Homo sapiens: one gene and its partners. The main gene of each other region encodes a partner of the protein of the gene in region 3 in a complex. Each region holds a gene or a part of one and is shown on either strand. Other genes may lie near its edges.

What was found.
Region 1: DRC12 (region 3) and DRC4 share a complex: the UniProt entries of both Homo sapiens proteins name them as parts of the nexin-dynein regulatory complex.
Region 2: DRC12 (region 3) and DRC5 share a complex: the UniProt entries of both Homo sapiens proteins name them as parts of the nexin-dynein regulatory complex.
Region 4: DRC12 (region 3) and DRC7 share a complex: the UniProt entries of both Homo sapiens proteins name them as parts of the nexin-dynein regulatory complex.

The regions. Positions count from the first base shown.
Region 1 is NC_000016.10:90,032,654-90,039,686, forward strand, and holds part of DRC4 (dynein regulatory complex subunit 4), read left to right. Parts: intron 1-64; coding exon 65-271; intron 272-2,979; coding exon 2,980-3,034; intron 3,035-3,727; coding exon 3,728-3,933; intron 3,934-4,578; coding exon 4,579-4,746; intron 4,747-5,108; coding exon 5,109-5,195; intron 5,196-7,033. UniProt on the Homo sapiens protein: Component of the nexin-dynein regulatory complex (N-DRC), a key regulator of ciliary/flagellar motility which maintains the alignment and integrity of the distal axoneme and regulates microtubule sliding in motile axonemes.
Region 2 is NC_000006.12:44,294,666-44,302,631, forward strand, and holds the start of DRC5 (dynein regulatory complex subunit 5), read right to left. Parts: upstream 3,034-7,966; 5' UTR 2,994-3,033; exon of another isoform or gene 2,486-2,993; intron 1,882-2,485; exon of another isoform or gene 1,649-1,881; intron 1-1,648. Other genes in the region: AARS2 (alanine--tRNA ligase, mitochondrial), read right to left, coding at 5,882-6,046, 6,491-6,601, 6,716-6,799, 7,395-7,505, 7,726-7,848. UniProt on the Homo sapiens protein: Component of the nexin-dynein regulatory complex (N-DRC) a key regulator of ciliary/flagellar motility which maintains the alignment and integrity of the distal axoneme and regulates microtubule sliding in motile axonemes.
Region 3 is NC_000011.10:119,189,749-119,192,869, forward strand, and holds the end of DRC12 (dynein regulatory complex protein 12), read right to left. Parts: intron 1,093-3,121; coding exon 962-1,092; intron 894-961; exon of another isoform or gene 819-893; intron 705-818; coding exon 552-704; 3' UTR 506-551; downstream 1-505. UniProt on the Homo sapiens protein: Component of the nexin-dynein regulatory complex (N-DRC), a key regulator of ciliary/flagellar motility which maintains the alignment and integrity of the distal axoneme and regulates microtubule sliding in motile axonemes.
Region 4 is NC_000016.10:57,718,803-57,725,835, reverse strand, and holds part of DRC7 (dynein regulatory complex subunit 7), read right to left. Parts: intron 4,170-7,033; coding exon 4,097-4,169; intron 3,124-4,096; coding exon 2,995-3,123; intron 2,835-2,994; coding exon 2,706-2,834; intron 1,222-2,705; coding exon 1,001-1,221; intron 1-1,000. UniProt on the Homo sapiens protein: Component of the nexin-dynein regulatory complex (N-DRC) a key regulator of ciliary/flagellar motility which maintains the alignment and integrity of the distal axoneme and regulates microtubule sliding in motile axonemes.

The DNA of each region.
Region 1 (7,033 bases), on a different chromosome or scaffold from region 3:
ACAGGTACGGAAAGGTGAGGAGGTGTGGTGCAGGTGAGCAGATGGTACTCCCATTGCCCTGCAGGTGTACAAGCAGAAAGTGAAGCACCTGCTATATGAGCACCAGAACAACCTGACAGAGATGAAGGCTGAGGGCACTGTAGTCATGAAGCTGGCACAGAAAGAGCACCGCATACAGGAGAGTGTGCTGCGCAAGGACATGCGGGCACTGAAGGTGGAGCTCAAGGAGCAGGAGCTGGCCAGTGAGGTGGTGGTGAAGAACCTGCGGCTGGTAGGTGTGGCGGGGGCACCTGGAGGCTGACAGGTTGTTGGGACGGCAAGCCTAGTGCTGCATGAACTCCTGTTTATTCAACAGCAACTGGGAATTCATATTTCTGCATAAGACTTTCTGCATTTTTGCAATTTGTTGAAAAAAAATTTTTTAAAGCATGCATCCAAACAAACCCCATTTTGGGACCAAGTACACAATTCTGTCTCAGACCTGAGCAAAAAATTGACGTCACCGAAGAGAAAAAATCCAGCTTAGGATCTTTCATGTGCTGCTGACACCTGACACCCAGAGACTTTTCCTAGGGAATAGCATCATATGCATTTAGTAGAATGCAAACCAACCATTAAAATATCCAGTGTGTTGACTCCTGGGCACTGTGACAGTTTGTCACACAAGCTGGTCTGATTTTTACTTTTGAGGCTGGGGGTTTCCAGGGCACCATTAAAATTCATCTGTGCACCTGGTTCAGTGGCTCACACCCAAAATCCCAGCACTTGGGAGGGTCAGGTGGGAGAAGTGGTTGAGGCCAATAGTTTGAGACTAGCTTGGGTGAAATAGTTGAACCCCATGTCTAAAAAATTTAAAAGAAAACATTAGCTGGTGTAGTGGCACATGCCGATAGTTTCAGCTACTTGGGAGGCTGAGGCGGGAGGATCCCTTGAGCTCAGGAAGTCAAGGCTGTGGTGAGCTAGGATTGTGCCACTGCATTCCAGCCTAGGTGACAGAGTGAGACAAAACAAAAAGGAAAGAGATCATTTGCTGAGTGTCCATTAGCTGCTAGGTCCTGATCTGATCTCTGACAAAACGCCTGCCCGACTGGGGCTGTTGGTCTAGAAAGGAGAGACAACAGGTGAGTTGGAAGACAAAATAAACGTGCCAGATACAACAGAGTATCTGGTGGGGAAGAGTGCCATAGAAGGATCGAAGTGGGGAGAGGTGGGGTGCGGTTTTGTACAAGCAGTTGACCGGCTGGGAGACGGGATGGGCCAGTGGGAAAGCTCAGAGTGACCAGGAGGAGACTGTGGGAGAGGGTCAGAGCTTGTCCGCCTCGAAAGCCGTGGTGGGGACTGGAGACGGGTCAGAGCTCGTCCGCCTCGAAAGCCGTGGTGGGGACTGGGACTTTGACCCTGGTGGAGTCTGTTGCCCTCTGAGAACTTGGGCAGAGGAGAGATGTGTCTCACTAAGGTTCTTCCTGGCTGCTGGGTTGAGGAGACTTTCTGAACACATTTGCCTCACGCCTGGAAGCAGTCCAGCCTCCACTGAATCTGGAAGAAACTTGGTGACGTTGCTGACTTCGCAGCAAAGCCTGAGAGTGCCGAAGTCTTGAGCCCTCCAGAATTAGCTGGTCTTAACCCAGGTCCTGGATATGATATTGTTACATAATCAGAGTTTCCTGTTGGGTAAAAATATGGCTTTAGGCCGGGTGCGGTGGCTCACGCCTGTAATCCCAGCACTTTGGGAGGCCGAGGAGGGTGTATCACGAGGTCAGGAGTTTGAGACCAGCCTGACCAACGTGGTGAAACCCCGTCTCTACTAAAAATACAAAAATTAGCCGGGCGTGGTGGCGCACACCTATAATCCCAGCTACTCGGGACGCTGAGGCAGAAGAATCACTTGAACCTGGGAGACGGAGGTTGCGGTGAGCCGAGATTGTGCCACTGCACTCCAGCCTGGGCGACAGTGTGAGAGTCTGTCTCAAAAAAAAGAAAAATTACTGCTTTAAAAATAATTTATTTTTTTATGCAAATTTTAAATATATAATGTTTATTTAAATATATAATAATTGTTCATTAAAACTATATATTTATTTATTTTTAGAGATGAGGTCTCACTCTGTCTCCCGGGCTGCAGTGCAATGGTACAATCATAGCTCACTGCAGCCTCGAACTTCTAGTCTCAAGTGATCCTTCTGCCTTAGCCTCCCAAGTAGCTGGAACTATAGATATGAGCCACCACACCCACCTAATCTTTTTTTTTTTTTTTTTTTTTTTTTTTTGAGATGGAGTTTTGCTCTTGTTGCCCAGGCTGGAGTGCAGTGGCACAATCTCAGTTCACCACAACCTCTGCCTCCCGGGTTCAAGCTATTCTCCTGCCTCAGCCTCTCGACTAGCTGGGATTACAGGCATGTGCCACCATGCCCGGCTAATTTTGTATTTTTAGTAGAGACGGGGTTTCTCCATGTTGGTCAGGCTGGTCTTAAACTCCCGACCTCAGGTGGTCTGTCCAGCTCGGCCTCCCAAAGTGCTGGGATTACAGGCGTGAGCCACTGTGCCCGGCAATCTTTAAATTTTCTGTAGAAGATCTTGCTATGTTGCTTAGGCTGCCCTTGAACTCTTGACCTCAAGTGATCCTCCTGCCTTGGCCTCCAGCGTGCTGGGATGACAGGAATGAATCCTTTTAATATGCTGCTTCAGGCAGCAGTGCAGCAGGTTGGAAGCTACACACGGCACCTGGAAAGATCCCACAGCTCTGTGTGGATGTGGCTGCTGCTCTTCAGGCTGTGGGATGGTTTGGCGATGGAACCAAGCGGGTTCAGTGCTCACGACGTCTGTTCATGTTCTCTCTCAAGCTTAGAGGTGACTTTAGTTGAGGGAGGTGAGTTAGGGAATATGGAGGTGACCAAAACCATGAGGAACAGGGTCAGCCTGAAGGGAGCGGGCTTCCCTCTGTGTCCGGCTGTGTAGTAATGGCCGCTTCTCCCTGTGCAGAAACACACCGAGGAGATCACCAGGATGCGGAATGATTTTGAGAGGCAAGTTCGAGGTCAGTTTCCCGTGTGCTCATTGTGTAGGTGCCAGAGACACCCCCGCCCCATCAGAGAGGAATTTACCTCCAGAGCTTGTTAACTCAGGGAGCAAAAACTGGATTAAAACAGCCAAGGCATGCAAGAGAAAGAACATGGAAGTTTCCAAGGCCAGTGGACCCACTCAGAATCCCAGAACAACCTATTTCCATGTGAGTTTGGGAGGCTGTGATTACCACACACATTCCCACTCCTAGCTAAAATCAGTAGTTATCAGCAGGTGGTAGCTATTCAGTGCCGTGGGCAGCCTTCTTAAAATAGTCTTCTCCATGGCTCCTGGTCTGAGAAGGCTCCAATTTCAGAAGTCTCTGTGTTTTACTAATAAAGGCTGATTGTGGCTGGGTGGCCACACAGGCCTCGGTTACTGCTCACTGGGGTCAGCTGACATTCAGCTGTTGGCACCCCCAGTGCAGGGAGCGATTAGCAATGCCTGTCACTGGCAAAGGCAGGCCGACAGTGGTGTGTGTGCTGAGTGTGAGCATCAGCAGAAAAACTCAGTCTAAACCCCTTTGTTCTTCTCTTGCAGAGCTTTTGCCTGCAAGGCTGTTCTGACCACAGTGGGCGTTTTGGGCCCGTTTACAGGCTCCATGTTCTGTAGCCGTAGGGGCACCACGTCTTCCTCTGCTAAGCTGCTGTTTGCTGCTGCCTTTCAGAAATTGAGGCCAAGTATGATAAGAAGATGAAGATGCTGAGGGACGAACTCGACTTGCGGAGAAAGACTGAGCTCCACGAAGTGGAGGAGAGGAAGAATGGCCAGATCCACACGCTGATGCAGCGCCACGAGGAGGCCTTCACCGACATTAAGAACTACTACAACGACATCACCCTCAACAACCTGGCCCTCATCAACTCCCTCAAGGTGCTGTGCGTGGGCTGGGCTGGGGAGGCACACTCTGCCTGTCCTAGAATGTGGGCTGCAGAGTCCTGGGGATCCAGACCCCAGCTCTCCACCCCAACACACCCAGTACTTTTTATAAGATTGTTTGACAATGCCCCTCTCATATCCTTAACTGAAATTCCTAAATAACGTAACCTATCTCTACCTATTGTTAAAAGCAGTCAGGATATTGCCCTCACCGTAGTGCAGAGGGGGAAGTAATGAAGTGTGTTCTGGTTTGTAAAAGCTCAGATGGAACCGCAGTGAGGGCCGTGATGTGGCTGGAGTGGATAGGTGTCATAGTCACTGCCTGCGACAGGTGGATAGGTGTCATCGTCACTGCATGCTGGCAGTGACAGGATTTTCTACAGTAGACAACGGCCCTTGGTGGAATCTTGAACAAAGTATAGTCCTTCAGTCTGCATGGAAGCTGCATTCCCAGAAAACTCAGAATAAGTTGAAGCTGCAGAAATACTGTTTATACATAGAAGACGTCTAGGTGCCAGCATGCCTGAGGCTGGCAGCAGCTGGTGATGGGCAGGAGAGCACCCAGCTCTCACCATGCAGGCCACAGCCCCTTTGGTTCTGCCTGCTGAGCCCCTGCCGGGCCTGTGCTTGTGCCTGCAGGAGCAGATGGAGGACATGCGGAAGAAGGAGGACCACCTGGAGAGGGAGATGGCAGAGGTGTCTGGGCAGAACAAGCGCCTGGCAGACCCTCTCCAGAAGGCTCGGGAGGAGATGAGCGAGATGCAGAAACAGCTCGCAAACTACGAGAGGGACAAGCAGATCCTGCTTGTGAGTTTCCCGCTGGATTCCTCTCCCTCCTTGGCATGAGCTTGCCTAGGCTCAGGAGGGAGGAGCATCACAGGGAGGGGCTTGGCCCTTAGGGCAGGAAGGGAGACGGGGAGGCCTGCATTTCTCCTTTCTCTGCCTCGTGTTCTCCTGGGGAAAGTAAAGTCTGGGGGTGTTTTGGAGACAAGGCCCTCATCTTCACCACGTGCTACCGGCCGGCCTTGGTGAGACTCAGCTGCTTGTGTCCTGGAACCAGGTCTTTCTGGCGATTATTTTTGGCCTTGCCATCTCCCAGGAGCCCGTGTTACTTGGATGACTGTGAATCTTGAATACTTTCTGTCCCCTACTCCCTGTTTTTCCTCCAGTGCACAAAAGCCCGTTTGAAAGTCAGGGAGAAAGAGCTGAAAGACCTGCAGTGGGAGCATGAAGTGTTAGAGCAGCGATTCACCAAGGTGAGTGGCACCACGCTGGCCCTGCAGTTGGCGGTGGGTGTTAGAGCAACGGTTCACCAAGTTCACCAAGGTGAGCGGGCACTAGGCTGGCCCTGCAGTGGGGATGGCACCCCTGCTAGCCAGGGACGGGGCTCTCCTTGTGGCCCCTGGACCAGCTTCAGATGCCTTGGCCAGGTTTCTGGGTTCTGAAGCTGGAGGCCCTGTTCCCTGTAACTCATTCCGCAGCTTCTAAGAGGCAAAAACCTGTGGCCTGTTCTGCATGCATATTCTGCAGAAGGCCTGGGGTCTTGATGGGGAACGGATCACACATGACTTTCGTCCCCTCGAGAGCTCACCTCTGAAAGCACATGAGGGAGGCTCTTAAGTGTAAGTGAAGATGAGTCTCCGGCTGCTCAGTGCTGGTCCTCACACTGGCGAGTTTTATGGGCTCCCTTCCAGGTTTCCTGCATGCTCTCGTGTGGATGTGACTTTGTATGTTACGAACACGGGATCAGGCCATAAGCACAATTTGCTTTTTAATCTCACAGTGTATCAGGCTGCACATAGGAAGCGGTCTCATCCTTTTCACAGCTGCTTGGTGCTGCGTTTTGTGAACGTTTGATCATTTAGCCGACTCCCGTCTGTTTCTAATGCTCTGCTGCTATAAGCATTGCTGCCTCAATCCTTTTAAATTTGTCTTTGTGCACTTGTGTGAGATTGCTTCTTAGGAAAGCCAGTTCCTAGCAGTGGGATTGTTGAGTCTGAGGGTTCTGTTCTGAGGACCCTGATCATCTGTCCAGAGGGCTGCTCTGAGTCACACACCTGCCAGGGTGCGGAGGGGCCGTTTCCATCCTCACCTGCACCAGATCTGACAGGTTTAAACCTTTGCAGAAGTGACTGGGTGGAAAACATCTCATTTCGTGGGCACTTCCAAGATTCGCAGTGAGTGGTAGGGGTGCTCGGTCCTGTCTCTGTCCCTTAAAGACGCTCCTTGCCTCTGTTCAGTTTCAAAGTTCTGGCCAAGGACCAATCCCTGCAGCATGGGCCCCTCAAGGCTTTGTCTGTGGTGTGCGGGGCCAGGGCATCTTATCTTGAGCCGCAGTTATATGTGCTGTTTTGTTCTCTAACCTAATTGAAATTTTTGAACACAAACCGTTGTAGTGGGATTCGCTTCTCAGAAATATCCCATCTGTCTGTCAGATCTAGCCCCACCTTCAGAGACACCTCAGGTCCTGCACGACGTGCATTGCTAGGCTGTGCCAACTCTTGGCACCTAAGGGAAGGGCACCTGCAAGGTAGTCAGTGAGATCCTGAGGACTGCTGTGTTAGACAAGGGGCCCTTCCTTCTCCCTGTGGGTTTTGAGGTGGACATTATTGGGAAGAGGACAGCAGAGACGTGCCTGGGTTGGAGCCTTGTTTTCTGTCACATTTTCTTCCATTTGAATGTGGTTCCTGACAGTGTCCAAGCTGGTGTCTCTTCCTAGAGAACCGAGAGCTCAAATTTATCAGCAAAATTTAGAGACCAAGGCAGTTATTTATTTATTTATTTATTTATTTATTTATTTATTTATTTTTGAGATGGAGTTTCGCTCTTGTTGCCCAGGCTGGAGTACAATGGCACGATCTCGGCTCACTGCAACCTCCACCTCCTGGGTTCAAGTGATACTCCTGCCTCGGCCTCCCGAGTAGCTGGGATTACAGGCGCCTGCCACCACGCCCGGCTAATGTTTGGTATTTCTGATAGAGACAGGGTTTCACTCTGTTGGCCAGGCTGGTCTCGAACTCCTGACCTCAGGCGATCCACCCACCTCACCCTCCCAAAGTGCTGGGATTACAGGCGTGAGCCACCACACGCTGCT
Region 2 (7,966 bases), on a different chromosome or scaffold from region 3:
TAATTAGGGGAAAAAAATGAAGGTTGAACCCAGGAGGCAGAGGTTGCAGTGAGCTGAGATTGCGCCACTACACTCCAGCCTGGGCAATGAGAGCAAAACTCTGTCTCAAAAAAAAAAAAAAAAAAAAAGAAAGAAAGAAAAAGAAAGGAGGCAAGGAGAATAACCACAGAAAGGAGAGGAGGTGGGGAGTGGGTAAAGGAGAAGACAGGAGTCTGAGAGAGCTCTGCCTGTTTCACAGATTGGTCTTAGTCTGGCCTGGCAGTCATCAGCCTGCAGCTGAGGGTGCAAGTAGGTGGCACTATCTTCCCTGGGAGCCTGCAGGGATGGGTGGATACCCAATAGCTGGGGGCCCCGGGCACATGGACAGTCCCCAAGGACCCACAGAGGGCAGTCCTGGAGGTGGCTGAAGGGTCACCTTCCTCTCCGGAGCTTTCTTTCCCTGGGAACCTGTTGGGCCAGTCAGAGAATGCCAGAGTTTGAAGACTAGGAGCATGTTCAAGACTCCAGTCTTGAACATGGGCAGGGCAGGAATCCTGACATTCCAGAGAGGTCAGGGCCACCAGGAGTGGGTACGTCTTGTGCCACCACCTGGTGTCTCCATCCAAGGATGTGCTGCGCTCTCAGAGGGGGAAAGTGGGAGAGTGGGGACACGTGCAGTGGACTTTCACTTCTCTGGGGCCTGCCTCACCAGCTTGTTTGGCTTCACATGGTTGTGTCTCTAACCTGGGACCACAGTCCCCAGGGAAAGGCCAATCCTCCTCCCCTGGGCCCCTACTCTGCATCCTCAGGACCAGGGTCCAGGGTCCTGAAATCACACACAGGGAACAACGTCTATACCAGGACATTAACTCAAAGGATTGGGTGTGGACTGCTCTTTCCATGCCCAAGCACAGGTAATAGAAAGTGACAAGATGTTCCAGTTTGGCCAGGGTTGTCCTCATTTCTGATGGCTTGAATCTGGTGGACAGGTGTTCTGGGAACCATACCCTTGGCTATATATAGCTATGATTTATTGAGAGCTCTAGGCCTTCAATAACATGTACATAGCAGGAGGCAGGACAGCAGCTGGCTAAGTACTCAGGAGTTGTGCTGCTGCCTCAAGTCAAATCTCCACGGTGCCCCCCACTATCTGTGCAACCTTGGGCAGGTCCCCACTTGCCTCAGTTTCTTCATCTATAACGTGGGGACAGTACTTAATAGTATCTATTTCATAGGATTACTCAGAAGATTAAGGAGCTAATGTGTGTGAGACATTTCATATAGTGCTGGGCCCAGAGCCAGCACTCAAGATGTGTGTTAGATATTGTAGTGAAGATGCTAGATACCTTACTACATAATTTTATTAAAATCTCAAATTAATTATTGAGGATTATTATTTAACACTATTGTCCCCATTTCACAAATGAGGAAACTGAAACTTAGAAAGCTTAAGTAACTTACTAAATGTCACTAGCTAGTAAGTGGAGAAGCTGAGGTTTTAGTTTGTGTCTGTCTAATGCTCTTACTTCCATGAGATGCTGGGGTTGCTTATAAATTGCTCCCAACTCAGTCATTCATAGCACTTTTCCAGTGGGTCTCCCACTTTCTCCAGCTCATGAGCTCTCTTGTTCACCAATATGGAGCCCAGGGTTATACCCTTGGTGCTGACCTAAATAGTCCAGGCTCCCTCTTCCAGTTCACTGCTGGGTATAGGAGACTTCCGCAAGGCTGGACCACTGCCTGCATCCTTTGGAGGGTGCAAGGAGCCCAACAGAGTGCTGCAGAGTGGTGCTCTCCTGCCCCTGGCATATTCCCTCCACAGGAAGTCTCAGGTCTTCTCCATCCTTCCTCAGGTCCCCAGCTAAATCTAACCATTCTGGGTAGGAGCTCCTTCCACCTGCCCTAATGGGAACACGAGGAAGATGCTGTAGGTTTGCATTCTCACCTTCTTGTGCATCACAGTTCTGGTCCTCAACTGTCCCCTCCTCCCTTCCTCTTAGTGGAGAAGTGGAGACACCCGGCCCTCTTTGGGCAGACAGCGCCTCTGTGCCCGGGACACTTCCCCAGGAGCTGGCTTTGCACCCACTGCTCTGACTGCCTTCTCTGCCTTCTCAGCCGCTCCCACCCCAGATCCCCTCAGGAGAGCCCTCCTCTGTTCTCAGGGCTCTGGGCTTTTGTCTACAGCCACCTCCATATCCTTCATGCCCACCATGTCTTACTTTGGGGTAAGTCACTCCCAAGTTGGGAATTCCACTTGTGGAAGGGCAAAAAACTTTCTCCAACTGAGCCTCGGCCCGTGTGCTTGGACTTGGGCTGGGTGAAACCGCCAGTTCACTTACCACAGCCCCTGGGCTGGCCTCCTCCCAACTCCTGACCACTCAGGTCTGTTGTCTCAAAAGTGACTCCAGCGGCTCTGGAGTCTCCCACCCCTCCTCCCTACCTTCAGCTCAGACACCCCAGCAGAGAAGCTCAGCTCCAAAGGCCAGGAGTCCCTCCCCCATCCTACCTGGGGTGTAGAGGCGCTGGCTTCTCCTTGGTAACCCAGGGAAACCGGCAGTGCAGTGGGAGGTAGGGAGATGAGGAAGCTTCCGCACCCGCGGGAGGGATTACAGCCCTCGGGTGATGGGAACGGACGGCCTTTCGGAGAAGCCTAGGGCCCCAGGGCTTGGGACCGCTCTCCTCCACGCCCTACGGATGCCCCACTTTCCCCCTCTTCTTCCCAGTCCCTCCCCTCGCCTCACTCGGATCCCCAGCCCCGGGCCAGACGGTTTGCAGACAGTGACTGTGGTGGGGAGGAGGCGCGGGGCGTCCTCGCGTGGAGGGCGTGGGGTCTCCCGTGGGTACGGACCGGCGCTTCCCCGCCACGGAAAACGCAACCCAGGCAATGGCCGCCCGTGGGCTTCGGGCCGGTGTGGGCAGAGGACGCTAGAGGGGCTCCCGGGCCCAGCCGGCCAGAGGGGGCCCCGATAAGGGAGACCGGGGCTGGGTGTCCCCACTCCCGGAGGTCGCCTCACCCGCTCCGGGAGCCCCGGCGCTCGCCTCACGCAGAGTCCCGCGCGCCGGCGCAGGTCTTTGTCGTTGGGGACGCCCCGCGTTGCTAGGAGCGGGCCGGGCCGGGAGGACGAGCGCGCCGCTGCTTCCTCCGCTGCCGCTGCCGCTGCGCGCCAGGCACGCGGCTTACTCGCGCGCAGGGTGGCCAGGCCCGGCCTCGGGACGGTTCCGTGGAAGCGGCCGCTTTGCGGGTAGTGGGACTGTGGCCTTGCGCTATGCCCTGTGCTTCCGTGGGACGTGTCTAGGAACGGGTGGGCTTTCTGCGGGAGGCGGGGGTCGGGCAGGGCTGCTGGTCTGGAGTGCTTGTGCTCTCTTGGTAGCTTTTGTGTGGCAATGGATAGGGAGCTGGTCCAGGAAAAGCGTCTGTGGAAGAAGAGGAGGGTGGACGCACCTTCTCCAAGGCACCTGTAGAAGTCACTGGAACTCCCGTGAGGCCTCCTGTTGACCTTAGGCCCTGCGGGAGGGAGGGCACCTTCCACCTTTCCCCCAGCTGAAGGTCTGGTACCAGACGCAGGAAGGTTCCAGGCCAACACAGCGCTCCTTCACACAGTCCATGCCCTGTGCCAAACTCTCTTCCAGCCCTGGCGCGACAAGATGTGGTTGGGGCCCCAGATCTCCTGGAGGGCGAGAGGGACAGACCAGAGGGACGGCTAGTAAAAAAAAAGAAATTGGCCTTCAGGAAGGGAGAGGCAGCCAGGGTGGCGGGGCTTTCAAAGGGTAGCTTTGACTTCAGCTCTGCCGAGGACTACTAGTTGGTTACCCTGGATGAACATCTCGAAGCTCTGTTAACTCATCAATAAATCAGGGGTGCCAAAACTCATCTTGGCGCTCGCGGAGGAGCTTGAACCTGGGCCTGTGGTGAGCACTGCTAAACAGGCTACTGCCCCAGTGGCCAGGATGCTGCTTTGCAAGCAGTGAGGGGCCAGGCACCCGGGATTGGGTCCCTTCAAGCCCTCAGCAGTGCCTTACCAGCAAATCATCAGTGCCTTAATTAGAATGAGAAACTGCAGAAAATGATGCCAGGCGGGCCCACGCTGCTCGAATAATTTTTACTAGACAGAATTTGGTAGCCAGGGAGCCCTTGATTTGAAGATGGATCCCCTGAGGCCCTTTCCTTCATCTAGCAACAGAGATCTAGGAACAAAGGCAGAGGTCCAAAGTCTGGCTGTCTGAGGTGGACTCATTCTGGTAGGGAAGGAGGGCTTTCCTCCATCTCTGCTTCCTCCTGCTTTGAAGTGCCAATTTTCAGCTTCAGCTCAGGCTTGAGGCAGGTGCTGTACAACTTGTTTTAATAAGCATATTGTTTGTCTGACCCCGCTCTCCAGCCTCCTCACCTGCCCCTATCCCAGCTCACTGCTCAGTGGCACTGGCCACCTCACGGCCTCTGCATTGGCTGTTCCCTCAGGCTGGAATGCTTTTCCCTGATTTCCACACGGGTCACACCCTCACCTCCCAGCTCCCTGCTCACATGTCACCTCTTGGTGAGGGAATATCACCATCCACACTCCTGATCCCCATTCTCTATTTCCCCCCCAGACCTCATCACCATCTGACACTTTCTCCCTTCTTTTTTTTAAGACAGGGTCTCACTCTGTTGCCTGGAGTGCAGTGGTGCAATCATAGCTCACTGCGGCCTTGAATTCCTGGGCAAAGTGATTTTCCCACCTCAGCCTCCCAAGTAGCTGGGACCAAGGTGTGGGTAGTCTCAGCTACCTGGGAGGCTGAGGCATAAAGATTACTTTTTTTTTTTTTTGTAGACAGGGTCTTGCTGTTTGCGCAGGCTGGTCTTGCACTTCTGGCCTCAAGCGATTCTCCAACCTCAGCCTCCTAAAATGCCAGGATTATAGGCATGAGCCACCAAGCCTGACCCTCTTCTTTTGCTTTATTTCCTGTTTCCTCCACATGAAGCAGGCTCCATGAAGGAAGGAACTGTCAGTTTAGTGCCCGCCACGTTCTCAGTTGCTCAATTCATCAACAAACCAGCAGGGCCCAATTTAAATTAGAGGTCATTGTTAATGAAAGAAGTAATAGCAAAGAAGGTCTCCAGTGCTGAAATGATTTTCACAGGATGGTTCTGTATCTTCCCAGTAGCCAGGGAGCCCTTTGTCTGCCCACTGTTGCCTGGCACGCAGAGCCTGTCCGAACACTCATGGCAATGAAGATGGCCCGATTTGGATCCTGGGTGGCCTTTCAGACAGTGTGAGTTCAGACTGGTCTTAGGTTGCTGGGAGGGGCAAAACTACTCTTTTTTAAAGGTAATAGAACCTTCTGGAGCTTGCTATCCTCTGTGAAATAATTATTTGAGACAGAGTCTCGCTCTGTCACCCAGGCTGGAGTGCAGTGGTGCGATCTTGGCCCACTGCAACCTCCACCTCCCAGGTTCAAGCGATTCTTCTGCCTCAGCCTCCCGAGTAGCTGGGACTACAGGCGTGTGCCACCACACCCGGCTAATTTTTTGTATTTTTAGTAGAGATGGGGTTTCACCATGTTAGCCAGGATGGTTTTGATCTCCTGACCTCATGATCTACCTGCCTCGGCCTCCCAAAGTGCTTGGATTACAGGTGTGAACCACCACACCCGGCCAGTGAAATAATTTCTAATGTGCAGTCACAGCCATAATTGTCCATGTCTTCTCTTTCACCAAGGGGGTGTGTGTCTTTGGGCCCAGTTCTGCCTTCCCTAGCCCATGTCTCCTTGTGTCACGTAGGCCCTGGCCCAGGTGATCTTCTTTGGCTCAGCTGCTTGGCCTCCAGCCTCTAGTCCTCGCTTCAGCATGTGGGAAGGTTCTGCTGGCTCCTTCAGGGCTCCTGGCATTGCCTTTAGTCCATGTGGGTCCCTGGGCGGACCTGGGTCAGAGCTGGCTGAGGGCATAGGTTTGGGCTATACTGAGGGCAGCTTCCAGGTCAGTAGTGCTTCCGGTGCCTTGGGCCACCACTCGTGAGCCCCACGCCTTGCCCCCCATGTGGCTGCACACTGCCAGTGCCCAGGCCTCTGCTGTGAAGGTGGGCATGGCACCCTAGGAACAGAATCAGAAGAGGAAGCGATGCAGAGTGGCCCTCCCTGCCAGCATCCACTCAAGGTACCCTCAAGAGTGGAGCTGAAGGTCATCAGTGCCCCCTTCCCAGCTGGGCACATGGTGGGGCAGTCAGGTGATGAGCCGGAGAAGGTTTGGGCTGGAAATGTGTGTGGGGAGGTGTATGAACGTGAACATCTGCTACTTGTTTACAAGGGATGTGAGGCCTGGGAGGGGTTAGGAATTAAGGAATCTCTTGGTGCCTTCTGGGGTGGGGAGGGGCTGTTTTCAGGAACAAGGAGATTCCCCATCCCTGTCCTGGAGTATCCTCATAGATACTTCCACCCAGCCTTGGCCCCTTTGGGAGGAATTAAAGGTGTAAAATCAGAGAGCTGGACCAGGATGGGTATTAATGGGGGCGGTGGGCTGCTCTCCCACTTCCCTCACCTGGGCCACCTGACAGGCACACAGCACCTTCCCCATGGGCTGGGGGCTGAGTAGGAGCACAGACGTGCTGGGGGCCTGCTCACACAGCTGCCGTACCACCTTCACCAGCACCTGGACCACGAAAGACAGATGGTGAGCCCATCGCTTCCCAGACCCCTAGCTGTCTCCTGGTCAGGACTTTGCCCTCCCCAGACCCTGGGGCAGCCCGGCTTGGCTAGCACTCACTGAGAGAGACTCAGCAGAGACTGTGTCCACAATCAGAGGCCCCTTCGAGTGCCGCTCCAGCAGCTCCTGAGTTTTCTTTGCAGCCTATGGGGCAGGAAGGACAAGCAGAGGGGTCAGGCTGAGAGGCAGGTTTCCAATTAGCCCCAACTTCTGAACTAAGCCCCAGCTGAGCAATCCCCTGCTTCCCCCACCCACCCCAAAAGTCATTAGCTCTAGGCAGAGGTGGCAGGGACTCTGCCTAGGGTGGCCTCCTTTTTGGGTCCCACATGTGTCCTTCCTCACTTCCCTCACCACTTCCCTTTCATCATAGCTTCAGGCCCCTACAAATAGGTCGCTGAAGGTGAAAGGAGGAAGGTCAGAGCACAGATGGACCAGGAGTGGGCGGGAGAAAGGGGGATCCACAGTGGAGGTGCAATCAGGGCTGAATGGCACTAATCAAGTCAGTAGGCTTCCGGGGGTTCTGAGCCAGACTTGGGAGTTGGGGGAGAAACACAGTTTGAAAGAGACAGAAGTGGGGGAATGGCCTGGGTGATGGTTCTCAGCTGGCAGGAGAAGGAAGCTGCCACCACCCCGTCCTTGCACAGCCTCTGACTCACCCCCATGCCCCAGCCCTTGAGACTTCTCAGTGTATCTGCTGGAGTGTCTCTGGGCACATGGGTGCAGCCAAACCTCCTCTCACCTGTCCCATTTGCAGCTTACGGATGGCAGTGTTGGCACGCCGCTGCAGCATCTTCACTGTGGCCAGCAGCTCCCGCCGCTGCCACTGGGGCATCACAGCAGTTTCCACAGCCTATGGCCAGAAGCAGTACATCACCCCTGCCCTTCCCTGAGCCATAGTCTCTGAGGTAGGGACCAGCAGGGCCAGGGAAGACACCCACCCTGCAGACAAATATCTGGGCCAGCTGGAGCCCAACCCAATTGGAGTGCTAGGGAGAGTCTGAAGGAGTCCAGGGAGGAATAGGGGAGGTAATAGGGCTAGGAGAGGGTGGGGTGGTAGGCGTGGCCCTCACTTCAATGAGTCGTCCTATGTCCTTGGACAGCCTCAGTGCCTCCGCCACATCCCGGCTCCCCAGACTCAGCCGCTCAGTGGCCGCTTTCACTTCCTGGGCCAGGCTCTGGCCTAGCTCTCGGGCCTGCAGGGAGGGGACAGGAGGGTCAGGATTACATTCATCTCCCCAGGACAAGGCCTCTCAACTCATTACTGGTCAGGGACAAATAAGATTTAACAATCAGGACCAATCAAGGCACCAG
Region 3 (3,121 bases):
CCCAAGGATGAAGGTGTGGCTGTGGGTCTGGCTAGGATTGAAGCCATCTGGACCTTTTCTAGATATGACTCCAGGACCCTTGAGTGTAATGCAAAAATTTGGAGACCAGCTATGCCTGCCCTCTGTGGGTGCCTTAGCATTGCGGGAGGGTGGTGCTTGGTCACCGTTGCATTTGTTATAGAAATGGCCATTCGCCATAAATCTGACTGCCTGTGTTTGTGTTGGTGGGGGTAAGGGGCAGTGGTGTGAAGGGACCAAAAGGGCCTCAGGCTCAAGGGGTGGGATGCGGCTCCTGCAGGAGAGAGGTTGAGACCTGGTCAAATTTATTTCCTATCAATCACTGAATCTCAGGGATAATGGGTCAACCCAGAACTGAGATGTCTGTATGACAGCCACTCCTAAAAATAAACAACAACAAAAACAAAAAAAGAAGAAAACTAAATAAAAATAAAAATAAAAATAAGATCCACTTCTCTCTGCCAAACGGCCAGAGCCCACAGCTCTATTGAGTTCTACATCAAGACACTTTATTGCTGGGGCCTCAGAGAACACTAGAGACTAGGGGCTGGTGGCCTCAAAGATCCAGGGGGGGTGAGTCCAAACTGGCGTTGCTGCTCCTTGTGCCTGGCGTGAAGTCTCAGTGCTGCCCCATCCCACTGCTGCTTGATGGCTCTCAGCTTGGCCAAGAGCCTGTCCAGACTGTCCTGCAGACATCAATATTTCAGACCCCAGAAAGAGAGAGAGGGAAGGAGTGAGTGCTGCCCCAGGTTGGTTCATAAGCTTTCCTTGCCCAGTAGACATGGTCGTATCCCCTCTGTCTGCCCTCAGGATAGAGCAGGGCTCCCTTGGAGACGCTCCTTCTCCTTAACCCTGGGTTGTCAGTCATCATACGAGCTGGGGTTTGTGGGCATGGGGGAGTCCTGGGTACTGGGATGGCTGGGATCCAGGGGGTGGTGCTTACGTGTAAGATTTCCTCATACTTCGCCTCCATGTCTGCCATGTGGGCCCGAAGCTGAGCCAGGGCCTGGTCCCGCTCTCCGAGAGCTTGTTCAGCCTCTTCCCGGGCAGCTGCAGCCTCCCTTTGGCATGCCTCTGGGGGCAGGCAGGATGAAAGAGAGCAGGATGGTGACACTCTATCCTTGACCAGTCTCTCCAAAGGTATCTGGAAAGGAGACCTCAAATGGGCTCGTTCCAGACTCCCCCAGCATCACCAAATTTCCCGCAGTCCCTGTAAAAGCTGAAGCTCCACTGAGGTATATAGCAGAGAGTGGCGGGCTTGAGATAGAAGGCTCCAAAGTCGGATTACTACCTAGGTGACCACATGCATGTCTCTTTCTGAGCCTTGGTGTCTTCATCTTTTTTTTTTTTTTTAGATGGAGTCTCACTCTGTCGCCAGGCTGGAGTGCAGTGGCGCGATCTCAGCTCACTGCAACTGCCACCTCCTGGGTTCAAGCAATTCTCCTGCCTCAGCCTCCCGAGTAGCTGGGATTACAGGCACATGCCACCATGCCCAGCTAATCTTCGAATTTTTAGTAGAGATGGGGTTTCACCATGTTGGCCAGGATGGTCCCTATCTCTTAACCTTGTGATCCGCCCGCCTCGGCCTCCCAAAGTGGTGGGATTACAAGTGTGAGCCACCGCGGCTGGCTGGTGTCTTCATCTGTAAAGAGAGAATGACACATCCCTCAGGGGCATGCTGTGACCTTTAAACATGATAAATGGATGACAAAGCACCTAGCTAGTATACAGGAGGTGCTCAGTAAACATTGATTCATTGGCCGGGTGCGGTGGCTCACGCCTGTAATCCTAGCACTTTGGGAGGCCGAGGAGGGCGGATTACCTGAGGTCAGGAGTCCGAAACGAGCCCGGCCAACATAGGTGAATCTCCATCTCTACTAAAAATACAAAAATTAGCCAGGCATGGTGGCGCACACCTGTAATCCCAGCTACTCGGGAGACTGAGGCAGGAGAATTGCTTGAACGTAGGAGGTGGAGGTTGCAGTGAGCCGAGATTTGCCATTGCACTCCAGAATGAGCGACCAGAGTGAAACTCCGTCTCAAAACAAAAAACAAAAAACAAAAAAATCCCCAAAACAACAACAGCAAAAACAAAAACAATTGAGTCATTGATTGACTTGGAATTTGAGGTAAAGCAAAGATTAGGAAAGGAACCCAGAGTCTGAATGGCAGATAAGCAGCTCCTGGCCATCTATAGCTAAACCGAAGGCCTTTTTTTTTTTTTTTTTAGTTGGAATCTTACTCTGTTGCCGAGGCTGGAGTGCAGTGGTGCGATCTCGGCTCACTGCAGCCTCCGCCTCCTGGGTTCAAGTGATTCTCCTGACTCAGCCTCCCAAGTAGCTGAGATTACAGGCACACGCCACCATGCTCAGCTAATTTTTGTAATTTTAGTAGAGATGGCATTTCACCATACTGGCCAGGCTGGTCTCAAACTCCTGGCCTCAAGCAATTCTCTTGCCTTGGCCTCCCAAAGTGCTGGGATTACAGGGGTGAGCCACCGCACCCGGTTGAAGGCATTTTTAAGGTATGAAAACTTTGAGACCAAAATTGTGAAAGAGCTCATGTGTCATGCTGAGATATTTCAACATTATTTTGTAAGCAAGAGACAAGAGAAGCAAAGGCTTCCTGGTTTTTAAAAATATTTTTGCTTATTAGGAGTGTTTATTCATTTATTTGGTGAACAGTTATTTAGGATCTACCAGATGCTAGGTCTTGAAGATACAGAAGTAAATAAGTCAAACATTTCCCCTTAGTTTCATTGTAGAAATCAGCTAAACTAAAAGGGAATATGTTTTGCTCACAAGAGACATGGCAGTGGTGGGGAGTTAGGGCTGGACTTGAGAGGAGGAAATGGGGTGTGAGGCCTACATCTTCTTTTTTATTTTTATTTATTTTTTTGAGACAGAGTCTTGCTCTGTTGCCCAGGCTGGAGTGCAATGGCGTGATCTCGGCTCACTGCAACCTCTGCCTCCTGGGTTCAAGCGATTCTCCTGCTTCAGCCTCCCGAGTAGCTGGGATTACAGGTGTGCGCCACCACATCCGGCTAATTTTTATATTTTTAGTAGAGACGGGGTTTTGCCATTTGGCCAGGCTGTTCCTGGAC
Region 4 (7,033 bases), on a different chromosome or scaffold from region 3:
TGCTTGCCTACCTCAAGAGATGGGGAGCTCACCACCTCTCCAGGCAGCCTACTCCATTGCTAGACATCCCTTACTGCTAGAAAGAGCTTCTTTGGCATGCTGCCATTACACACAGTTGCCAACTAATTTGTAATGACATGAAGGGGAAAATGCACAATTTCATGTTAAGTGGGTAATACAGGGACTCTAATCCCTGGGTCCCGATCTCAATTACATTAGAAAAAACTCTCAAAACCAAACCTATAATCCGTGGCAACATATGAGAGATGCCATTCTGAGATATGTTTACTTTTCTCTACATTTTTACATATTTTCCAAATGTTTAGTCATGAGTGTGTATTTTTGTATAACAATAAGGAAGTAACACATCCTTGGCCCCATGGCTGAGGGCACAGTCTGACACCAGACAACCCCAGGATGGCGCATTTGGTGATATGGTTTAGTTTCGTGTCCCCCCACCAAAATCTCACCTTGAACTGTAATCCCCATAGGTCAAGGGCGGGACCAGGTGGAGATAATTGAATCATGGAGGTGGTTTCCCCCATGCTATTCTCGTGATAGTGAGTGAGTTCTCCCACGATCTGATGGTTTTATAAGCAGCTTCCCCTTTGCTCAGCACTTATTCTCTCTCCTGCTGCCCTGATTCTAGTGAAAAGGACCCTTTTCACTAGGCAGAAGGTGGAAAGGACCCTTTTCACTAGGCAGAAGGTGAAAAGGACCCTTCTGCCATGATTTTAAGTTTCCTAAGGGCTCCCCAGCCATGCAGAACTGTGAGTCAAGGAAACTTCTTTTCTTTATAAATTACCCAGTCTCAGGTATTTCTTCAAAGCAGCATGAGAACAGACTAATACATTTGGTAAAATGCTTGGTTCATCATTGGTGCCCTTGGATATGTCTCAGGCCTTAATGCCACCCCAGAGCCAGGGCTCTCACCATTCAGAGGTGACATCAGCTGCCAGAGAAGGAGGGCGACCTGTCCCCAGCCCCCGCGAGCTCTTACCACAATGGGCCGGGGGTTTGACTCTGCACTGCTCAGAGTGAGCTTCTTGACTCGGGGTCCGAAGCTGGCATGGCGGTAGGAGAGGAAGTCTGGGCGTCCTTGATAGTACTCTGTCATTGTCCTGGGTGTCTCCTCCCGCTTCATCAGGCCATCCACACGGGCCGTTTCATAAAACTCAATGACACGGTCCATCTCAGGTTGCATGGACTTGTACGAGTGCACTGGGTGGGGAGCGGGAGTTGGGAGGAGACAGCTTCATAAGCACTAGGAAGTATGGCTGCTGGCTTGGTCGCCCAACCCCAGGCCCAGGGAGAAGACAGACCCACATTATGGATGAGGTTAGCTATGAACCAGTCCCCTATTGCTGGGTGTTTAGGTTGCGTACAACTTTTTCTGATTATTACCAACACCATGATGAACATCTGCATCGTGCATTTTTTGTTCTTGTCCATTATTTGCTAAGAATAAATTCTCAGCAGTGGAATTGCTGGGCCCAAAAGTGTACTTTTTTTTTTTTTTTTTTTTTGAGACACAGCCTCGCTCTGTCACCCAGGCTGGAGTGCAGTGGTGTGATCTCAGCTCACCGCAGTCTCCGCCACCTGGGTTCAAGTGACTCTCCTGTCTCAGCCTCCCAAGTAACTGGGACTACAGGCACCTGCCACCACACCTGGCTAATTTTTGTATTTTTAGTAGAAACGGGGTTTCACCATGTTGGCCAGGCTGGTCTCAAACTCCTGACCTCAGGTGATCCACCCAAAGTGCTGTGATTATAGGTGTGCGCCACTGTGCCCAGCCAAAAGCGTACACGTTTTATGGTCATTATCAATATTTTGCCCAACTGTCCTCCAGAAAAGTTCCAATCTGCTGTCCCATCAACAGTGACACAGAGTGACTGTTGCTCCCATACTTGTTCATACCCAGTAGGACCATTTTTTTCATCTTTGCCAACATGGGGGTTATAAGATGGTCCTTTATTGGTTAGGGACCTTATTAGTTTCTTTTTTTTTATTATCAACTTCCAAATGAGGTTGATCATTTAAAAAAAATGTATATTACTCCTATGCTTTTCTTTTGTAAATTTCTTGGTCAGGATTTTTTTTTTTTTCTTGAGACAGGATCTCTATCTGTCACCCAGGCTGGAGTGCAGTGGCATAATCTCGGCTCACTGCAGCCTCGACCTCCTGGGTTCAAGTGATTCTCCTGCCTTAGTCTCCTGAGTAGCTGGGATTACAAGCACATGCCACCATGCCTGGCTAATTTTTATATTTTTTGTAGAGATGGGGTTTCACCATATAGCCCAGGCTGGTCTTGAACCCCTGGGCTCAACTGCCCATGTTGGCCTCCCAAAGCGCTTGGATTACAGGTGTGAGCCCCTGTGTCCGGCACTGCCTCCTTTAAATGTGGCCTCCACCGTGTGACCCCATGGTGAGGTTCCGGCCTGATTCCAACCACAGAACGGGTATGTGGCGCCCCCTTTAGCTTTCCTGGAGGAGCATTTGTTATATTTCCTTAGAATTTCTGAGCTTTCCCTGACCTCCCACACATCGGGTTTGCTGAGGGAGGCAGGGCAGCTTCTACTGCTTGCTGCCCAAGAACCCATGTATAATATGTATGCTGGTTCCTGCCACCACATACCACCTGCCACAGGGTGTGTGAGGCCTCTACCCCAGGCTCCTGGGTGGCCCAGGAAAGGGGAGCCACGCACCGCGCAGAGCCTGGGGGTGGCCAGGCTTGAAGTAGTCTGTCTTCAGGTCTGTGGTCTTGTTTATGTGTTTCAGCTCCAGCATGTCTTCCCGGTTCTGGTACCACTCCTTTATCTCCAAAATATTGGTACCTGTGGGGCCGATGGACACTTGCCGCAGCCAGGCCAGCTCCCCTAGCCTTCAACCCCCCTTATTCCAGGCACACAGAGGCCAGCAATGACCCCAGAGAGAGTAGAAGCCGCCCCCGCCCCTGGGCTGGCCTGGACCCATGTCCAGAGCAATCCCCCTTACACTGCAAGTCCTCATAGGTGGTGAGGCGGCTCACAAGGCCATTGCTATTGAGGTACGGGGCCCACTTCTCCAGCTTTGCCCTCTTGTACTGAATCACCTTCTTCCCGTTCGGGCAGCGGGTCTCAAATGCTGTGGACACAGTCAGCTGTGGTCTCTTCTTGCTAGTTTGGGGGAAGGGAGGGCCAGCCCCGCCCAGCCATTCATCCATCCACTGCCCGTTCTCTGTGTACTGAACTCCTCCAGCCCCAAGCCTGATCCAGGGAGGCCGAGGAGAATAATCACCAGGGGTGGCTCCAGCCCTAGAGGGGTTCTCAGGCCAGGCAGAAGCACAGATCCACCCAAGAATGGGATTTGAGCCCCATCAGAGGGTCTGCCCTGCAGCCAACCACACTCTCACATTGCCAGGCCTTTGCTTGTACAGGTCTCTGCCAGAAACACCGTCATCCCCTCCTCCCCTTGTTGGACTGACTCCTTCAGATCCTTCCAAACTTCACCCAGGTGACCCCTAGCCTACTTCTGGTACCCCTTTCTGCTCACCCATCCCCAGGCCCTAGCCCCAGTGCTGGGCTGGGTGCGCCCCCCTCTGGGTTCCCATGACAGCCTCTCTGGCACTTCCCACCCTGTTGAAGTGGCCCATGCCCTCCCCATAGGTCTGGGTGCTCCCTAGGTGGGCACCAGCAGATATTGACATGGAGCATGACAGTCCCTGCCCTCCTGCCTTCTCTACCTGCCCCTCTCCGGTCCTGAGACCCCCCGCACCATCTGGGCACTGCCCATGGCCTCCTCTGGGTAGAAGAGTGTGAGAGGGGAATGGGCTGGGTTTCCAGGCCTTGCTGTCACCTACACGCCATCATCCCACACATGCTCACTGAACTGCATCGCCCCGTGTGCCAGACTGGTCGTCAGGCCCTCGGGGTCAGAGCTGAGTGCGTGTGGCAGGAAGGGGGGAGGGAGGGAGGGAGGGTGCAGCTGAAGGTGAGAAGGGTGGAAATGTGGGGCATGGCATTCCCTGCTGTGTCCCCCTGCCTCGCTGTTGCAGACCTCTCTGGAGGCCCAGGAACTGGATCTGGAGAGGATAAGTGAATACACAAATAGAAAATACCTTCCGGGGAGATCTCAATCTGCTCCACCCACGAGTGGGGCATGTCGAAGCTCTTATCCTCATCCTCCTTGCCCTGATGGGAGAGAAGGGGGTGGGGGAGGTGGTGCTGGTCAGGGTGTTGAAGCAGAAGTTATGGTCAAAGCTCTGTCTCTGCCTGCAGAGCCAAGCCAAGGTGGTCCGTTGGCTTCCGCAGGGGAACTGGAGGTCATGAGCACGACCCATGATGTGGAAAAGGAGGAGTCGACTCTGGGCAGGGAGCCCTTCCCTATACTTGCCTGGCTTAGGACAGCAGCACCCCCTGCCCTGGCTGCAGGCCCTTCGTGATTAGAGAGGTGTTTCTGGAGTCAGGGTACCCAAGCCCCACCCTCTCTCCAAGACCAGCTAAGGGGTCCTGGGCAAGTCCTTTAACTGCTCTAAGCCTTAGTTTTCTTAACTGTAAACTGGACCTTTTAGGAGGATTAAATGATATAATGTCTGTAAAGGCCTTGGGGCTCTGATTGGCTGACATTATTATTATTATTATCATTTGAGATGGAGTCTTGTTCTGTTGCCCAGGCTGGAGTGCAGTGAATCTTGGCTCACTGAAACCTCCGTCTCCCAGGTTCAAGTGATTCTCCTGCCTCAGCCTCCTGAGTAGCTGGGATTACAGGCATGCACCTACCACACCCAGTTGATTTTTGTATTTTTAGTAGAGACGGCCGGGGGAGGAGGGTGGTGTCTCACCGTGTTGCCCAGGCTGGTCTTGAACTCCTGACCTCAAATGATATGCCCACCTTGGCCTCCCATAGTGCTGGGATTACAGGCATGAGCCACCATGCCCGGCCTATTATTATTTCCTCTCTGAGCCTTAATTTCCCCATTTGTGAAATAAGGCCCGATCTAGATAAATGGTCCTCAAACTAGATAATCACAGAAACTTGGATAAGACTTTCTCGACTTAAAACCTTTTTTCCACAAACATTGCTCATACCTCTGACAACTGTTTATCTAATTGTGACATTTTGCAGGGGACAAAAATGAGTGAGCAGTCAGCAGTTAGTATTGTCAAAAATCTCTAAGATGGTCAGGTGGGTGGGCTGTCACCCGGGGTCTGGTTTTTCCTGGGGGTCCATGACTGGGTTCTGACTCTTTGGGCTGCCCTCTGTCCGTCTTTGCTGTAATGAGGGCTCTTGGGCCAGGGTGGACCAGGACTCTGTGACTGGAACTGTTTGATTATTAGCCATGTGGGTGCTCAGCCGGCTGCCTGCAGGGCTGGGCTCTCAGGCCCTGGCTGGTCCATGCCCCAAGGCCAGCAGGGGGCACCTATGCCTGGATTTACTGCACACAAGATGTCCCCAGTCTCTGGAGATGAGGATGCTGAGAACATTTAGCACCCTTTTGAGATGGTCTACACTGCTGTGCCAAGCACATCACATCAAGCAGCCCCAGGAGGTAGAACAGAGTTACCATTGAGAACCCAGACTGTGGAGCCAGACTGTGTAGGTTCAAATCCCAGCTCTGTCACTTACCAGCTGTATCGCTTTGGGTAAGTGACTTAACCTCTCTGTGTGTGAGTCTTCCCATCGGTAAAATGGGATAATATTAATCACAGGTGGTAATACCAGTGCCCACCTCACCAGGTGGCTGTGGGGATTTAAATGAGTTACTTCAGGTTAAGTAGATACAATGGATCCCAGTGCTTAGTAAGGACCATGTGAGTGCTACCTTTTGCTACGGGCTGAATGGCATCCCCCTAAAATTCATAGGTTGAAGTTTTAAGCCCTGAAAGTGACTGTATTTGTTTTATTTATTTTTCTTATTTTTTCTTTGTTGTTGTTGTTGTCTTGATCACTTACTGTTTGAATGATTGTTTTTAGAGACAGGGTCTTTAGAGAGGTGATTAAGGTAAAATGAGTTCATTAGAGTGGGCCCTAACCCAATATGACTGGTGTTGGTTGGGCATGGTGGCTCATGCCTGTAATACCAACACTTTGGGAGGCCAAGGCAAGGGGATCTCTTGAGCCCAGGAGTTCGAGACCAGCCTAGGTAACATAGCAAGACCATGTCTCTCTGAAAAACAAAAATTAGCTGGGTATGGTGGTGTGTGTCTGTAGTCCCAGCTACTCCAGAGGCCAAAGTGGAAGGATCATTTGAGCCCAGGAGTTCGAGGCTGCAGTGAGCTATGATCGTGCCACTGCACTCCAGCCTGGGCAACAGAGGAGACCCTGTCTCAAAAAAAAATAAAAAGAAAAATGACTGGTGTCCTTATAAGAACAGATTAGGACATAGATTTGTACAGAGGGAAGACAATGTGAAGACAGGGAGAAGACAGCCATCTACAAGCCGAGGACAGGGGGCTCAGAAGGAACCAACCCTGTCCACACCTTGATCTCAGACTTCCAGCCTCCAGAACTGTAAGAAAATTAATTTCTGTCATTTAAGCAACCGCATCTGTGGTGCTTTGTGATGCCAGACGAATGCACTTATTAGAATTACTATGAATACAACTATGATCCTTCTGCCTCCATTTCACATAAAGGCTGAAACTGAATTCAGAGAAGGGAGGCTGGTGATGTGGGTAAGGCCCTGGCCAACGACATTCAGAGGAACTGACAGAACAGACAAGAAAGGCCTGGCAGCATGTGGGGCTCATGATGGCTACTTGGGATAGAACTGAGAACAGCCAGCTCTGGGACTCCCAGGGGGTTGCAGAGCGGGGTGTTATGACCCCGCTCTGCAACTTTCTTTTTCTAAATTTATTTTTATTTTTATTTTTTGTGGTGGGGTGGGGTTGCGCAGGCTGGAATGCAGTGGCATGAACATGGCTCACTGCAGCTTCGGCCTCCCAGTCTCAAGTGATCCTCCTGCCTCAGCCTCCCAAGTAGCTGGGACAACAGGTGCATGCCACCACAGCCAGCTAATTTTTAAATTTTCTTGTAGAGACAGGGTCCCACTATG